Linked DNA regions of Homo sapiens. The protein of the gene in region 1 interacts with the protein of each later gene in a pairwise test. Each region holds a gene or a part of one and is shown in the gene's direction. Other genes may lie near its edges.

Region 1 (4,517 bases):
TCAGGCTGGTCTCGAACTCCCGACCTCAGGTGATCCGCGCGTCTCGGCCTCCCAAAGTGCTGGGATTACAGGCGTGGGCCACCGTGCCCGGCTGAGACAGAATCTTGCACTGTCATCCAAGCTGGAGTGCAGTGGCACAATCTTGGGTCACTGCAACCTCCCCCTCCCGGTTCAAGCAATTCTCCTGCCTCAGCCTCCTTAGTAGCTGGGATTACAGGTGCCCGCCAACACACCTGGCTAATTTTTGTACTTTTAGTAGAGACGGGGTTTCACCATGTTTGCCAGGCTGGTCTCGAACCCCTGGCCTCAAGTGATCCACCCGCCGCAGACTCCCAGAGTGCTGGGATTTCAGGTGTGAGCCACTATGCCCGGCCTAATACGTGGATTTTTAAAGCTTCAGGTTCTGGTTCAGAAGTTTCCTGGGTCTCATTAAAATAATGAGGCACTCAGAATTGGTCTAATAAAAATAACGACCATTTCTTTCTACTCCAGTCTCTTTCACAAACTTCTTAGTGAAAATGACAAGTGAGGCCCTTCAGTAGGGGCATTTTCAGTGGAGATAATAGCGGCAGACCTGAGACCTTGGGCTAGGTAGTTTATTCTCATTTCTGAACAGATGATGAATTTTCTCAGATGACCCTAAGAAATTGTTTTACCAAAAACAAAGTGATCTATTTGCTTTGGGAGGAACTCCCTTCCTTTTGTTTCTCTTCCCTTCCCCCCTTCCCCTGCGGTTGTAGAGCCCGTTCTGTCCGGTCGTGGTTCTGTCCAGCCATGATCCGGGAGTCCTAGCTTGCTAATGGAACACCTGAGATGTTCCTTATGGCTCAAGGCTTGAATTGAAGGTGGGAACCACCTGAAGCCTCCGTGGGGAGGCCTTGCCTGAGGTTAGGTGTCTGGCATGAGTGCCGCCGGCTGGGTGTGATTTAGGTGAAGGACATCTGTAAAGGAGCGTGTCACAACCTCTGTTCCTTCTTCACATCTAGTGGTATCCTGAGGTGCGGCACCACTGTCCCAACACTCCCATCATCCTAGTGGGAACTAAACTTGATCTTAGGGATGATAAAGACACGATCGAGAAACTGAAGGAGAAGAAGCTGACTCCCATCACCTATCCGCAGGGTCTAGCCATGGCTAAGGAGATTGGTATGGAATCCTGTGTTTTTCCTCCTCCTTGTACCTCTTTTATTGTAGTGACAGAGACTGGAGTCCAGTCTGGGAAAGGAGGGTGTGTGTCTCCCACTCAGGGCCTGGTGTACTCTTGGGGAACCAGCTGGCAAGGCCCTGTGGGTCTTAACGTCAGCGTTGGAAGGTGGAAGCAGGGCTGGGAGCCGGCAGAAGGCGCCCGGGCCCCAGGAGCTGCCTCCCGCTGGTGGTGTGATCAGAAGAGAGTGGGGTCGAGTGTACATTGCCGTGTGGTCGTGTTTCCTGTAGGTGCTGTAAAATACCTGGAGTGCTCGGCGCTCACACAGCGAGGCCTCAAGACAGTGTTTGACGAAGCGATCCGAGCAGTCCTCTGCCCGCCTCCCGTGAAGAAGAGGAAGAGAAAATGCCTGCTGTTGTAAATGTCTCAGCCCCTCGTTCTTGGTCCTGTCCCTTGGAACCTTTGTACGCTTTGCTCAAAAAAAAACAAAAAAAAAAAACAAAAAAAAAAAACAACGGTGGAGCCTTCGCACTCAATGCCAACTTTTTGTTACAGATTAATTTTTCCATAAAACCATTTTTTGAACCAATCAGTAATTTTAAGGTTTTGTTTGTTCTAAATGTAAGAGTTCAGACTCACATTCTATTAAAATTTAGCCCTAAAATGACAAGCCTTCTTAAAGCCTTATTTTTCAAAAGCGCCCCCCCCATTCTTGTTCAGATTAAGAGTTGCCAAAATACCTTCTGAACTACACTGCATTGTTGTGCCGAGAACACCGAGCACTGAACTTTGCAAAGACCTTCGTCTTTGAGAAGACGGTAGCTTCTGCAGTTAGGAGGTGCAGACACTTGCTCTCCTATGTAGTTCTCAGATGCGTAAAGCAGAACAGCCTCCCGAATGAAGCGTTGCCATTGAACTCACCAGTGAGTTAGCAGCACGTGTTCCCGACATAACATTGTACTGTAATGGAGTGAGCGTAGCAGCTCAGCTCTTTGGATCAGTCTTTGTGATTTCATAGCGAGTTTTCTGACCAGCTTTTGCGGAGATTTTGAACAGAACTGCTATTTCCTCTAATGAAGAATTCTGTTTAGCTGTGGGTGTGCCGGGTGGGGTGTGTGTGATCAAAGGACAAAGACAGTATTTTGACAAAATACGAAGTGGAGATTTACACTACATTGTACAAGGAATGAAAGTGTCACGGGTAAAAACTCTAAAAGGTTAATTTCTGTCAAATGCAGTAGATGATGAAAGAAAGGTTGGTATTATCAGGAAATGTTTTCTTAAGCTTTTCCTTTCTCTTACACCTGCCATGCCTCCCCAAATTGGGCATTTAATTCATCTTTAAACTGGTTGTTCTGTTAGTCGCTAACTTAGTAAGTGCTTTTCTTATAGAACCCCTTCTGACTGAGCAATATGCCTCCTTGTATTATAAAATCTTTCTGATAATGCATTAGAAGGTTTTTTTGTCGATTAGTAAAAGTGCTTTCCATGTTACTTTATTCAGAGCTAATAAGTGCTTTCCTTAGTTTTCTAGTAACTAGGTGTAAAAATCATGTGTTGCAGCTTTATAGTTTTTAAAATATTTTAGATAATTCTTAAACTATGAACCTTCTTAACATCACTGTCTTGCCAGATTACCGACACTGTCACTTGACCAATACTGACCCTCTTTACCTCGCCCACGCGGACACACGCCTCCTGTAGTCGCTTTGCCTATTGATGTTCCTTTGGGTCTGTGAGGTTCTGTAAACTGTGCTAGTGCTGACGATGTTCTGTACAACTTAACTCACTGGCGAGAATACAGCGTGGGACCCTTCAGCCACTACAACAGAATTTTTTAAATTGACAGTTGCAGAATTGTGGAGTGTTTTTACATTGATCTTTTGCTAATGCAATTAGCATTATGTTTTGCATGTATGACTTAATAAATCCTTGAATCATACGACTGGTAATACTGGTGTTTTTGAGACTTGATGAACAAGTTCCTGGTGTGTGTTTGTTTGCCTTGCTTTAAAGTCCTGGGTTGTTGGAGACAGTCATTTTCAATGCGTGTCTCCACACAGGAGGGACAGGGAGTGCCACCTCCAGGGGAGAACTGGGTGAGCCCAAATACGGCAGGAGTGGAGGTGACATTCATGTTTGGACCTGTCGAACAGTGGCGAAGCTCTGAGGGAGAAGCGCCTATCGGGGTGTGTGTGCACATCCTGGCCCAGAGCTAGGGGCTGAAGATGGAGATGTTGGGACCCTAGACTGGCCCTGGAAGAGTAGAGGTTGGTGAACCACATGCCCTTAAGATCCTTTCCAGAGGCTGAGTGCGTGGCTTACGCCTCTAAGCCCGACGCTTTGGGAGGCTGACACAGGAGGAGCGCTTAAGCCCAGGAGTTCTAGACCAGCCTGGACAAGAAAGAGACCTACCCAAAAAAAAAATGCAAGAGCCTGAACTTGTACTACATAAAGGTTCATGTTAGAATTCGTTTTCTTAATATTCCTTTTTATTGCTTTGAAGATTGTTTTTGAGTTTTTGTTTTTTTTTTAAGATGGAGTTTTGCTCTTGTTGCCCAGGCTGGGAGTGCAATGGTGTGATCTCGGCTCACTGCAATCTCTGCCTCTCGGGTTCAAGCGATTCTCCTGCCTCAGACTCCCGAGTAGCTGGGATTACAGGTGCCTCCCCCCACGCCTGGCTAATTTTTTGTATTTTTTCACCATAGTTTCACCATGGCCAGGCTGGTCTTGAACTCCCAACCTTAGGTGATCTGCTCGGCCTCCCAGAGTGCTGGGATTAAAAGCGTGAGCCACCGCCTCCAGCTGAGTATTTTTTTTTTAAACAGATATAAATAATGCAGATTTTGTTTTTTGAGATAAGATCTGGCTCTGTCTCACAGGCTGGAGTGCAGTGGCGTGATCTTGGCTCGCTGCAACCTATGCCTCCTGCACTCAAGCCATCCTCCCACTTCAGCCTCTGGAGTAGCTGGGACCACAGGTGCGCACCACCACACCCAGCTAATTTTGTGTGTATTTTTTGTAGGGTTTTGCCATGTTGGCCAGGCTGGTCTTGAACTCCTGAGCTCAAGCAATCCACCAGCCTCGACCTCCCAAAGTGCTGGGACTCCAGGTGTGAGCCACCAGCCTCGACCTCCCAAAGTGCTGGGACTCCAGGTGTGAGCCACCATACCTGTCAATATGCAGTTTTTAAAAGTAAAAGTTTTAGTGGTTTCTAAAGAAAAACACTTCCCCCTTCGTAGCCTCTCCAGAAGGAATACTTTGTTTGCTTACCTGATTTTTGGTATTTTACCTGCTGTGTCTAAATTAGGCTTTTTGTTCCAGTGTAACTTCTGAGTTCAGCCATTCTCATCGACATTCCCAGCATGGACGA
Region 2 (4,351 bases), on another chromosome or scaffold:
CAAAGCTGAAGAGGCTCCAAAAGTAGAATTAAGAGTTTGAGTTAATCCCCTCAGTATTCCATATTCTTTTAGATAAAGAGGCGGAGGAAGTACTGCTCCCTGGCTGTGATTACTGATGACACAGTATAGCTGCTTATAATTCTGTAAACCAGGCCCCTCCTTGCTGCAGGAGTACCATCTCTTCTCAAGCCTGCCGACTCCCATGCCCTTGTTGATAGTAGAGCTGTAGAGCCATATGGAATTGACATCCCTCAGATGGTGATTCTAATGATGCTAATCAGGAATGAGTGTCAGTCACTGGAATCACAAAGTTCTCATCCACCTCCCCTCCCAACACACACACACACACACCCCTTTGTGCTTGCTGGTCCCTCTGCCTGGGTTGCTTGCTCCTGTGCCCCCACTGAGGAGCTCCAGATCACCCTTCAAAGTACAGGGCATCATCACCTCCTCCCTGAGGCTTGCCCCAAGCCCGACGTTGCTCTTTTACTCTCCCTTTATCCTAGATCCTCAGGCCCCCTTGCCCTATGACTTTGGGCTCTGAATCTCCGCTTCCTCCTTGGTAGAATGTTACTAACAGCATCTGCCTCACAGGGTGGTTGCTGGAATGAAACAAGATAGTCCTCTGAGAGTGTCTCGCACAGTGTGAGTGTATGGAAACATTAGCTCTTCCTGTCATCATCACCATCATCATTTTTATTATTTCTTTTTTTTTTTTTTTTTTGAGACAGAGTCTCAAAAAAGGCTGGAATGCAGTGGCACAGCCTCAGCTCACTGCAACCTCTGCCCCCCAGGTTCAAGTGATTCTCCTGCCTCAGCCTCCCGAGTAGCTGGGATTAGAGGTGCACACCACCATGCCCGGCTAATTTTTGTATTTTTAGTAGAGATGGGGTTTCACCATGTTAGCCAAGCTGGTCTTGAACTCCTGACCTCAAGTGATCCAGCCACCTTAGCCTCCCAAAGTGCTGGGATTGCAGGTGTGAGCCACCACGCTTGGCTTATTTTTATTATTTCTACCCTCATTATACTAATATGCCACCGTCCCACTCTGTTAGTGGTTGTGCATGTCTGTCTCCACAGCTAGGCTGAACCTCTTGAGAGCAGGAACTGTGCCTTATTTCTCCAGACCCTCAGCACCTAGCACGGTGCCTGGCACATAGCAGGAAGGAGGAAGGGAGAAAAGGAAAGTAACATTTTGTGAGCAAACACCATAATAACTCTGCCAGGTATTCTGCTAGCGTCCTGGGTATTAATCTCATGGTGACCCTGTGCGGTTTTGCTATTTTTTTCCCATTTCACCAAAAGTCAGTCTAAGAGAAAGCATCGCTTTCCAGGGTTCCACAGCCACTCAAGGTCAGAATCCAGACCCAGGTCTTCTTTTGTACCCTCACCACACTGCCTCGAGCTGCCCAGTGCTTCTTTTGAATTGATGTCTGTCCCACCCTCCAAGAGCCACAACTCTTATTCTACCCTCAGATAAGGACATGTACATGGGTCTCACACTTGCAGGCCCCTCCCCTCATCGATGAGTAGGGGAGCTTCCCAAGGGCAGCACCCGTAGCTGAGAGGATTCCAGATCCTTTGTACCAGCTGGTGTTGTCACAGCCCTCTTCTTTCAAGGATTTCAAACCCTTTCCAGATATTCTCTGCAGACAAATCTTACTGGATCTGTTTTGTTTTTTGTTTTTTGTTTTTTATGAGACAGAGTCTCACTCTGTCGCCCAGGCGGGAGTGCAGTGGCGCGATCTCGGCTCACTGCAAGCTCCACCTCCCGGGTTCACGCCATTCTCCTGCCTCAGCCTCCCAAGTAGCTGGGACTACAGGCACCCGCCACCACACCTGGCTAATTTTTTGTATTTTTAGTAGAGACGGGGTTTCACCGTGTTAGCCAGGATGGTCTCGATCTCCTGACCTCATGAACCACCCACCTCGGCCTCCCAAAGTGCTGGGATTACAGGCGTGAGCCACTGCACCCGGCCTACTGGCTCTGTTTTATAGACAGATATCAAGAAACCCATTTTCCATTTCTGGCTGTCAGCTTACCCCTAAGCACTTGGAGTCCAAATCCTAGCTGATTGCCAACAGTAAGTTGCAAACAACAGAGATGGTAAATATGGGCAGTCCCTGGGGATGAGCCTCAGTGGTTGGGGTGGTGGGAGCTGGGTGTGAGGGGAGAAGAGCCCAGAGCCTGAAGACTGAGCCCTGGAGGGGAAAAGTGAAAAAGTCAGAGAGAGCTGTCTTTGAATCCACAAAAGCCAAGCCGGGGGAGCCACAGGAAGGAATCACAGAAGTGAGAGACCACTTCAGGCCCTTGGGGGCCAGTTGGGGAATGATGGGCTGGAAAGTGGACACTTAAGCGATGTTGAGGAGACACCAGGCTGGGAGGCGGGACACCTGGTTCCAGCTCTGGTTCTGCTCCTAACTATGTCACGGTCCCTCTCCATTGCCCATCTCCCCTATTGGCAACACAGAGGTGCTGTCATTCTCCCTCTGCTTCCCAGAGGATTGGTAAGGAACGACAGAGGTCATATATAGGGACAGGGAAGGGTTGATGCCAGAGGGAAGAAAGAAACTGATGGCGGGCCAGGCACGGTGGCTCACGCCTGTAATCCCAGCACGTTGGGAGGCCGAGGCGGGTGGATCACGAGGTCAAGAAATTGAGACCATCCTGGCCAACATGGTGAAACCCTGTCTCTACTAAAAATACAAAAATTAGCTGGACGTGGTGGCACACGCCTGTAGTCCCAGCAACTTGGGAGGCTGAGGCAGGAAAATTACTTGAACCTGGGAGGCGAAGGTTGCAGTGAGCCAAGATCACGCCGCTGCACTCTAGCCTGGTGACAGAGTGAGACTCAATCTCAAAAAAAAAAAAAAAACTGATGGGTGCTGGGGAGGACTGATAGAACTGAATGTGCAGGGCTCCAAGGGCATGGTGTGTGGTTACAGGAATAAGCAGTTCGGTTTCAGTATAAATAGCTATCCCCAGAGCCTTGCAAAGATGGAACTGGCTGCCTTGTTCAGTAGTGAGCTCCCCACCACTGGAGCTGTGAAGGCAGAAGCCGGGGTGGGGAGGGCGACTATAAAGAGGATTCCTGTGTTGGTTAGCAGACTAGACCAGGGTCAGTGAGCTTTTTCTATAAAGGGCCAGATAGTAAATACTTGTGGCTTCGTGAACCAGATGGTCTCTGCTGCAACTACCCAGTTCTGCCATTATAGCACAAAAGCAGCTACATAGGCCATAGGTAAATGAATGAGAATGACTGTGCATAAATAAAAATATTTATGGGCAATGAAATTTGAATTTCACGTAATTTTCACATATCATGAAATATTATTCTTCTTCAGCTTTTTTTTTTCCCAACTATTTAAAAATATAAAGACCATCTGTAGCTCGAGTACCATACAAAACAGACTGAATTTGGCATATGGGTTCATAGTTTGCTGACTTCTGAATCGGAGCAGCTGGCCAGAGGCAGAATGATGGAGCACACTGTTCCTCAAAGTGGGGTACCAGAGCACCCACACTGGGGATGCTTGAGGGTGCTTATCCCCACAGTGTGCCCATGTGAGCCCTAATATCTTGAAGCTTCTGTTTCCTGATCCGTAAGTACAGGACCCACATTAGATCCCCAAGTTTCTGTCTTGAGGATGACAGAGCTTTGTCTAGAAAGGGCTTTGTATCAGCTGTACACATATTAGTAGAGCCCAGGGTGAGCTTGAGTCAGACTGAATGGTCTGAGTCCTGGTTCAGTCCTCAACAGCTTTGTTACCAGGAGCAAGTTACTTAACCTCTCTGTTCTTCAATGTCCTCGTCTGTACAATGAGGATAATAATAGCACCTATCAGATAGGGCTGTCGTGTTGTTGTGCTATAAAGCACTTCCTGCCAGACAGGAAGTCTCTGTAATTATTAGCTGTTGTGATTTTTCACTGGTGTTATCATTCCTGGGACCCAGTCTAAGTTAGTAGCCAAGCTAAGTGCCAGCCCAAGATTCTGACTCCAGTGCAGCCTTTGTGATGGTCTTTGTGTCCCTGGCAAATGAGCGGTCACTGGCTGGGTGGCCACCACATTCACAGACAGGTCAGGTTTCAGGCTGTGGGGAGGAGCAGATTCTTACTTGGAAATTAAGGCCTTTGCCTTCCCCTATGGATAGAACTGGTGAATAGGTTTTATTCCCTTAGTGAGCTCAAAGAAATAAGAGTATAGTCCCAGACTTCCACTCTTCTGGTTTTAGAAAAAAAAAAACCCAAACCCTCAGTGTCTCCTAATTAGCTTGAGGCCATCACCCCATGAGAAGCAGGGGGATTCAGGACAGTTTAACTCTTTACTGCCTTACTAAGGAGATCTTGAT
Region 3 (4,830 bases), on another chromosome or scaffold:
TCCCTTCCAAGACTCCTGGGCTGCTTCTGCAAACTTGTTTGAGTAACGGAACCCTCAGTGTGGGGCTGGCTCAAATGAGCCCCTTGTTTTCATTTCCTTATCAACCATCTTGTGTACAGTAGGTGCATCAAGGTCCCAAAGGCCAAAGCGTCCCAAATAATGCTAGACTCATTACTTACCATGGACCAAAGGGAACATAAAAGGAAACTGTTAAAAATAAGCTTTGGGAATGTTTTTAGGAAAAGGATATATTTTGGCTTTAGCTAGAAGTTTAGTATTTGCTATGGAGATAAGATATGCCAGACTTTCACTCAGTAAACACTGACTGAGCACTAATTAAGAACTGTGAGATATGCAGGCACGACAGACATGGCTTCTGCTCTGGGGCACCCAGCCTGGCACATGGATGAATGACCATGACTGGCTTAACTGAGGACGTGACAGGGGTCTGTACACATCCTTTGGAAGCCCTGGGGCTTTGCAGGAGGCTCTGTGGAGTAACGGATATTGGTGAGGAACTGTCTTTAGTTGGGGCCCCTACTTTAGGAAGCTGTGTGGGGGCTCCTGGCAAGCCCTGTTCTTCAGGCAGTTCCCGCTGTGGCTTGTGGTGGAAGTATGTCCAGACCCTTGCATTAGGGCTCATTTTCCTACCCACCGTCTCCACTGTCCTTGGATCAGACCCACCTGTCTTTACTGCCCACCTCATGCCCTCATGGAAGTGAACTGTGATCCCCCTGGTACCTGATGCTCTCTTAGAACCAAGGCTGGCTTGAGGCACGCCTTGAGCCAGAGTGAAGCACCAGTGGTGTGCACATATGAAACGTAGTGAAGGGCTTCCTGGGTCACTGATATGAGCAATCACAAACGGGATAAATGACCAGACAATGAGCCAGCGCACTAGTGTCTCACCAAGCCCTATTCCAGGATAAATACCAGGGCAGGGCTCTGCTGCATGGGGACGGGGAGCTGCCCTCCTGAGCTGGCCAAGCCTCTCAGTGCAAGACGGCAAGCCCTGGCTCCAGCAGCACGGCAGTCCGTGTTTTCAGGGCAGGGGGAGGGGGCGCTGGCTGGTTCTCCTGTCCCCACTCCCACCAAACACTGCCCCACCGTGAATGGTTCAGAGTGGAGCAGACAGGCCTGAAACTTTGCAGAGGGTGTCCCCACATCTGATTCCAGGACTGGTTTTCTCAGGCATTCAAGCCGACAGAGTGACAGCAGTCCCACTCACACATGCAGTTTTCTAGTTCCACCAATCTTGCCTTCTGACTTGATCTGAGAGTCCCAGGTTCTTCTTCTGAACAAGGGCTGTTGTGAGGGTGAAGCGGGACAGTGCTTAAGTGCTTAACATATAGTGAAAGCTCAACTAATAGTAGCTACTATTATTATTTTTATACATAGAAAAAGCTTTGCACTTGGGAATTTCAATTTGTAAATGATAAATAATTCATGGTAAGCATTTCAAGGCATCACAAACATTTGCTGCCCTGTTTTATCAAGGTAATTTCAGTTCGGAAGCAGATGTATAATATAATTGAAGTTAGTGCCCTGCTCCTGCCCATCCACAGGTGCCTCCCCACCTCTACCCCCGTGGAGTTACAATCTTCTGTATGTTTTGTTTACTTTTTTAGTTTTTGAGATAAGGTCTTGCTCAGTCACCCAGGTTGGAGTGCAGTGGTGCAATCTTGGCTCATTGCAGCCTCAACCTCCCAGGCTCAAGCGATCCTCCGCCTCAGCCTCCTGAGTAGCTGGGAATACGGGCACATGGACCATGCCCAGCTAATTGTTTTATTTTTTCTTTGTAGAGATGGAGTCTCCCTATGTTGCCCAGGCTGGTCTCAAACTTCCTGTGCTCAAGTTATCCTCCTGCCTTAGCTTCCCAAAGTGCTGGGATTACAGGTGTGAGCCACCGTGCCTGACCCCTGTGTGTCTTATAGCCAAGGCAGCTGTTGTACATTACACTTGACTTCTTCAGGCCAAGCCTTCCTATCCCGGAGAATTGTTACTCTGCATTTATGCTCTTCATCAGTGTTCAATACCCAAATTTTTCCCACCACGTTTGTAGCCCTGCACTGTGGTTGTTCCTCTGAGGCTGTGCACATCACTTAACAGCCACACCATTCATTTGGCTTCAATGTCAGGCAGAACTGTCAGGAAAAAGTTTCATGACACCTAGAAAGCAATTCAAGTGGGAAAAAGAATACAGGGTTAACAAATGTAGGCCACGTTCCCAAGAGTTACTTCAGCAACAAAGAAGACTTTCAAAACATTAAATTCCACTGGAAGCCTTTGAGACAGGGACTTCCACACACAGAACACACGAAAAGTTTAGGAGGGCCAAAAGTTTATTTTTATTTCAAGACATTTGCTCAGGCTGATCTAGATGGTATTTTTTTTTTTCAGGTATTTTAAGTATGATAACAACCTTCAGTTTTTCACCTCTTGGCTGTTCCATTCAGCCTTTTCCAGTAGCTCAGGGCCAGACACTGACCCCCAGAGATTTCTGCTTGGACAACAGCCCCCTGGTCACATGAGACATCTTTTCTGATATTTTGCATTTGATGTTCTTAGGTTATTTCGGACACAAATTATCAGAGTCACTCAACTTTTAATCATGTTTTGATGGTCCAAAATTCCATTTAAAAACAAGGTCGGCAACTCCTTTTATCTCTCTTAGGAAATCAAAGAGCAGGAGGTTGTGGACAAAGTCATGGAAACACTGGACAATGATGGAGACGGCGAATGTGACTTCCAGGAATTCATGGCCTTTGTTGCCATGGTTACTACTGCCTGCCACGAGTTCTTTGAACATGAGTGAGATTAGAAAGCAGCCAAACCTTTCCTGTAACAGAGACGGTCATGCAAGAAAGCAGACAGCAAGGGCTTGCAGCCTAGTAGGAGCTGAGCTTTCCAGCCGTGTTGTAGCTAATTAGGAAGCTTGATTTGCTTTGTGATTGAAAAATTGAAAACCTCTTTCCAAAGGCTGTTTTAACGGCCTGCATCATTCTTTCTGCTATATTAGGCCTGTGTGTAAGCTGACTGGCCCCAGGGACTCTTGTTAACAGTAACTTAGGAGTCAGGTCTCAGTGATAAAGCGTGCACCGTGCAGCCCGCCATGGCCGTGTAGACCCTAACCCGGAGGGAACCCTGACTACAGAAATTACCCCGGGGCACCCTTAAAACTTCCACTACCTTTAAAAAACAAAGCCTTATCCAGCATTATTTGAAAACACTGCTGTTCTTTAAATGCGTTCCTCATCCATGCAGATAACAGCTGGTTGGCCGGTGTGGCCCTGCAAGGGCGTGGTGGCTTCGGCCTGCTTCCCGGGATGCGCCTGATCACCAGGTGAACGCTCAGCGCTGGCAGCGCTCCTGGAAAAAGCAACTCCATCAGAACTCGCAATCCGAGCCAGCTCTGGGGGCTCCAGCGTGGCCTCCGTGACCCATGCGATTCAAGTCGCGGCTGCAGGATCCTTGCCTCCAACGTGCCTCCAGCACATGCGGCTTCCGAGGGCACTACCGGGGGCTCTGAGCCACCGCGAGGGCCTGCGTTCAATAAAAAGAGCGCAGCTTGGGAGGCCGAGGCAGGTGGATCACAAGGTCAGGAGTTGGAGACCAGCCTGACCAACATGGTGAAACCCCGTCTCTACCAAAAATACAAAAAGTAGCCTGGCGTGGTGGCGCGTGCCTATATTCCCAGCTACTTGGGAGGCTGAGGCAGGAGAATCGCTTGAACCCGGGAGGTGGAGGTTGCAGTGAGCCGAAATCGCGCCACTGCACTCCAGCCTGGGCGACAGAGCAAGACTCCTTCTCAAAAAAAAAAAAAGCGCAGCAACAGCGATCCAGCGCCATCAAAAGGCAACGCAAGCAAAAAACGCGGCTTCCCTTCTGCCCCCGCTAGGGGGAGGCTTCCCCGGGGGCGTCCAGCCACTCCACAGGGGACTTCCGGCCTGTTGGGTCACATGTTCTTCCCTAAGCCAATCACCAGGAAGGGGAGCTGCCAATGGTCCCGGGCAGTCACGTGCCTTTCCACAATGCATGCTGGGCCACCAGCCCCATTCCCGGTGTTCACTGCGCTCCCCGTGGTCCTTGGCCTCCATCTCAGAAAGCTCACGTTCCTCAGGGTCCCTCTGTGCCTTCTGAACAGTAGCGGGTAAAACAGGAAGTCCTGCCTGTCCCAGGCAGTGTGGGAGGCCCGGAGGCTCGCAGGGCCCGAGGCTGGGTGGGGCAGAGGTAGGAACCACAGCTGTGATGGCCGAGAGATGGGTTGGTGAGAGGGGCCTGGGAGAGGCCGGAGGGGACCCAGCGAGGCCACTTCACATCTAGCCACCTGGGGAGTCCCCAGGGCCCTGTGCTCACTTCTCGCTCAGCTCTCGCCTTCTGGAAATTCGTGGTTACTTTTGGCCAAAGGGCGATGTTTTCATTTCGCACCGGGCCCTGCAAAGCTGGTCCTGGTGCATGCTCTGGGCTGGCGGGCAGGAGACCAAGCTTGGGAGGCCCAGGGTGCGACCTTAAGTTGGGGGGCGGGAGGGGCGCTGCTGCCGGGGGGCAGCTCTGGGCTGCCCTTGGCTCGGGTGCCCGCCTCCCACCTGCATTCCTCCCCAGAGGATGCTCTGCCGCCTCGGCCGGAAGTTGAATCGGCCCTTCCAGAGCCTCTTTTGCCCACACTGATCCAAGAATCCTAAAGTGACTAAGTCCCCAGAAGCCTACTCTGCTTCCAAACCAGATAGGGAGAACATTGGTCCTCCAAGGAGCTTGGCTCCAGCACCATCCCTCAGGGATTCCCAGGGCAGCTTCTGAGCACACGGGGGCTCCTCCACCATCCAAAGGGGG
Region 4 (4,351 bases), on another chromosome or scaffold:
AAGTGGACAACAAAGGAGTTATATTTCATAAGTGGATACCATGTGGTAGATTGAAAAAAAGCAGAGGTTTTGGAGCCAGTAGGCATAGGTTGGGGTCTCAATTCTGTCACTTCTCTGAGCCTCTGTTTCCTCATCTGTAAAGTGGGGATGATAACGTTCACCTCAGAGGGTTGTTAGGATATTAAAGATAATACACGTAAAGTTCCTCAGGCAGTGGACAGTCAGTAGGGAGAGGCTGGCTGGGATAAGTGAGCCAGACAGAAAGAGACTCAGGCTGGGAGGCAGGTGAGGAGGCTCCAGACTCTAGAAGAGGGGACTTGGGCCTCATCTGAAATGAAGGCAGGATTCAGATGAGAGGAGGAAAGCTGTCCATTGTGGATAGATGGAGTCGCTGGGACCTACTTTTTTGTGATGAATTGGAAGTGAACTAAGGGGAGGCAGACCCAGAATATATGTGCTGAGGACCAGTGGAAAGGTGGTGACCCAGGCCTGGGCCAACAGGTCAGAAAGAAGGCTCTAGACTAGAGCAAATAGAGTTCACGTTTCATCAACGGACGCCACTGGGCACCGTGCGCTTGTGTGCATGACATGGTTCTGGGTTCCACAGGGAAATGAAGAACATGTTTGGAAGGAAGGGAAGAAAGGAGTGTGGGAGATTTACTGCGTGCCTAGTGCTTCGTATGTACCTGAGTACAGGGTACTGGGACAATGGTACAAAGCACCCTAGAGCAGGGGCTCCCCAAAACTGATCCTCGGGCTAGTGCTAGGCAGAATTCCAGAAGAGAGGAAACTATATAATTTTTTAATATTGGAAAAGTAATTTGATTTGGACCACAGGGAAGACTACAAAGAAAAAGTAATTTAAGTGATGGTGGTATTGTTACTGCACGTTCAGGCTTTAGAGAAACTTCCATCTTTCTCAGCTTTCTTTCCTGGTGCCTTTTAATGCCTGAAGAGTGAGGTGTGAGTGTGTGTTTTCACTCAGGTGTGGTCAGAGAACAAAGCAGTGCTGTTCTTTCTGAGTCTTTCTGAGATATTTCTGGGTGAGAATGATCCCTCCCTTTGCAGGATCTCCTGTGTAACCAGTTTTCAAGTTTTTGATGATCTATCACTTAGATTCATATTTAAAGAGCATTCTACACAAACCAGATCTATTTTCCCTGTTAGCTGGTATGGTCTATAGAGAATTGTTTAAATAGACAAGTCAGACATGGCGGTAGATGGAATGTTCTGAGTGAGGACAAGGAGATTCCAGTGTGTCAGGGGAAGGATCTGTTCCACTGCAGCTGAGTCCCACTTGGGATGTGGTGAAGCGAGCAATGGCAGAACTGAGGACAGGGTTTGAGTGACCTAACCGGTGACAGTGGGTGGACATGAGGCCGAAGAGCTGAGCTCTGCAGCTGTCTCAGGAGACAGGTAGGATGAGACCTCTGGGAGCAGTGGTCAGTGCTGGAGGGCTGCTGACAAGGGCCAGGAGCCCGGGACCTTCAGGGACAGGCTCCTTTCCACCAAGACCATCTCCAAGTGATCTGTGCTTGGCCCAGGGAAGGGAGAAAAACAGAACCCTAGACCCTAACATTGCAAGTTACCTTACTCTTCTACCTCAGTTTTCCACCTAATGCACAATAAACATGGTCTAAGGAGGACAGTTCCTCACTACTGAAATCTAATGCTACAGCAAGATACATTTCTGCAAAGAGGGATAAGAGGGAACTTCAGTCCTAAGGCCTCAGTCAATAAGAGATTCTCTGTCCCATCTTCTTTCTTGTGTCACCACCCAGGGTTATAACTAGGCTAGAAGTCTTTAGTCAGGGTGTCCTCTCTTCAGCCAAAGCAGACGTGATTTTTATGCTCCCCTTAGAAAGTACAACACTTGGGTTCAAAGAGTCATTCAAAAGATGTCCCATTTTCTCACTCATTATAGACCAAGCCAAAAGTGTTTTCTTAACAGTGCAGAGGAGAGAGATGGGGCTTAGAGATAAGAAAGGAGTTCTTGAAAGCAAAGGGTTGGAAATTTTGGCCTAAAGGGACATTGGGAGTTATTTTCCCCTGCCAGGCCTGAGTCACAATCAATGGTCATCGTGGCGTAGCAGAAAGAACATGGGCTTTGGAGTCAGACTTAGGTTCATATCCTAGCTCTGCTTATTAGCTGTGGGACACTGGGTGAGTTGACTTAACCTCTCTGATCCTCAGTTTCCTCAGCTGCAGCATTATGTGAGAATATTGCCCCAATGTGATAAACAAATGGAATAAAGCCCATGAAAAGCTCCTGGTGCCACCGCATGGGGCATTATGGGGACAACATCATTTCCCTTCCCCTTCTGTTCCCATGGTTACCTCCCTCCCACCTGAACCATGTGGGCATACCAGGAGGCAGGCAGATAAATTCATTCAATACTTCTTTATTGAGAGCTTATTATGTGTTGGGCACGAGAAATTTAGAACAAAATAGATCTCATCTTTCCCCTCATGGGATTTTTCTGTCCAGCGAAGGTGACAGAGAAAACAATTCACAGAGAAAACAAACCTTAAATTACAAATTGTAGTCGATCTGTGAAGGAATTGAAACATCTCCGGGGTGCAGGAGTCGGTTCTGTCTGGGTAGGTGAGCAGGGAAGACCTCTCTGGAAAGGAGGTGGCCAGGCAGGGAAGTGGGGGAAGCAGTCCAAGCAGAGGGAACAAGCATACGCCAAGGCCCTGAGGCTGGAGAGCGTTCGGCCTGTGGGAAGAACTGAAAGGAGGACTTTGTAGCCAGGAAGACTGGTAGGAGAGGAGATTGGGCTTTGATAAGTCAAAGTAAGGAGTTTGGATTTAGGTTTGGTTTGGGGTACAAGAAACTACTGAGCAAGCAAGCAACATATCTAATTTATAAAGATATTTCTCGCCCCTGCTGCTAGGAGAGTTCATACTCCTCCATCACAGCCCAGTGTGGGCAGCCCAGGCCTGTCTCAGGGAGGCACCCCTGCCCCACAGGCCTGAGCAGAGGGGGTGAGAGAATCCAGGCTATGTGGAGAGATGAGCTTTCAGAGGTGGTGGGTGCGAAAGGCCAGCCTCCCACCCTAAGATTTAGTACCACCCACTCAAGCAGATGCTTCCATCTCCTGTCATCTGGGAGCTCCTTTTTTTTTTTTTTTTTTTGAGATGGAGTCTCGCTCTGTCACCCAGCCTGGAGTGCAGTGGTGCAATCTTGGCTCACTGCAACCTCCGCCTCCCGAGTTCAAGTGATTCTCCTGCCTCAGCCTCCTAAGTAGCTGGGATTACAGGGGCATACCACTACGCCCAGCTAATTTTTGTATTTTAATAGAGACAGGGTTTTGCCATGTTAGCGAGGCTGGTCTCAAACTCCTGATCTCAGGTGATCTGCCCACCTCGGCCTCCCAAAGTGCTGGGATTATAGGCGTGAGCCACCGCACCCAGCCCTAGCTGGGAACTCCTTGCACTGAGGTAGGGAGAAAGCAAGGGTGCCCTTTTGGAGCAGGTGGGCTGAACTTCTGTAGCAACTAAAGCCCAAGCTGTGAGTCAAGCCTCCCAAGTTATTCTCACCTTTAATGAAATGCTCAGTCTGATTTTATAGGGAAGGAGGTACTGTCAGATCTAGGCCAGAAATCTGCATTCTGTACCCCCTGCTCAGGCCAGAAATCCCAAGGGCTGGGCCCAGCATGTCCCCTCTGTGGTGGGACGGACAGACTGCCCCGGTCTTCCAGAACCCTTGGGATACCCACAGAAAGAGGTAACGCTGCTCTGGCCCTCTTCTGAGGACGAGTCAGTGGAGAGCATGCAGCTTCCAGCTGCAGCCTCTCTATGAAGGGCTGAGGCCCTGGGCCGGGAGGCTGGAGGAGAGAGGGACCCAGTGACCCCCCAAGCTTCCACCTTGCTCTGTTACCCGTTCTTGGGCTGAAGAGAGACCCAAAAATACAGTGTAGAGATTCACACTGAGGTAACTCAGGGAGTGGAATTCAGGGCCTCCCGCTGGGATTGAGGTGCTAATGACACAACTCCTGAACCTGACCTTAGAGTGCCAGCCATTGACGTCAACAAAGTTGAAATGATGTAACCTGACGCTCCCCCTGCGGGGCTTGTGCAGGGGCCTGGGGAGGGGGAAGGAGTGGCCATGAAACTGACTAGTGGACAGAACCCAGCTAAGGTCAGGACAAGACAGAGTGAAGGTCCCCTGGCACTGATGTTACAGAAGAATTCGGTGGTAAGGGGCTTCTGGAGAGTGGCATGTGCTATCTAAGCGAGTGGCCCAAATCCTTCCTGAAAGCATTTATCCGGCACTACAGCCACCATCAGGTAAGACAGTGGGCTTCTTCTGGCCATGGATGACACAGCCATGGGGGTGAGCAGCAGC

What was found.
Region 2: the proteins of RAC1 (region 1) and TOM1 interact in binary tests that used the Homo sapiens proteins (3 or more experiments, as listed by UniProt).
Region 3: the proteins of RAC1 (region 1) and S100B interact in binary tests that used the Homo sapiens proteins (3 or more experiments, as listed by UniProt).
Region 4: the proteins of RAC1 (region 1) and USH1C interact in binary tests that used the Homo sapiens proteins (3 or more experiments, as listed by UniProt).

The regions. Positions count from the first base shown.
Region 1 is NC_000007.14:6,400,882-6,405,398, forward strand, and holds the end of RAC1 (ras-related C3 botulinum toxin substrate 1), read left to right. Parts: intron 1-986; coding exon 987-1,146; intron 1,147-1,434; coding exon 1,435-1,565; 3' UTR 1,566-3,086; downstream 3,087-4,517. UniProt on the Homo sapiens protein: Plasma membrane-associated small GTPase which cycles between active GTP-bound and inactive GDP-bound states.
Region 2 is NC_000022.11:35,302,799-35,307,149, forward strand, and holds part of TOM1 (target of Myb1 membrane trafficking protein), read left to right. Parts: intron 1-4,351.
Region 3 is NC_000021.9:46,597,348-46,602,177, reverse strand, and holds the end of S100B (protein S100-B), read left to right. Parts: intron 1-2,674; coding exon 2,675-2,815; 3' UTR 2,816-3,574; downstream 3,575-4,830. UniProt on the Homo sapiens protein: Small zinc- and- and calcium-binding protein that is highly expressed in astrocytes and constitutes one of the most abundant soluble proteins in brain.
Region 4 is NC_000011.10:17,533,661-17,538,011, reverse strand, and holds part of USH1C (harmonin), read left to right. Parts: intron 1-4,126; exon of another isoform or gene 4,127-4,224; coding exon of another isoform or gene 4,225-4,293; intron 4,294-4,351. UniProt on the Homo sapiens protein: Anchoring/scaffolding protein that is a part of the functional network formed by USH1C, USH1G, CDH23 and MYO7A that mediates mechanotransduction in cochlear hair cells. Required for normal development and maintenance of cochlear hair cell bundles.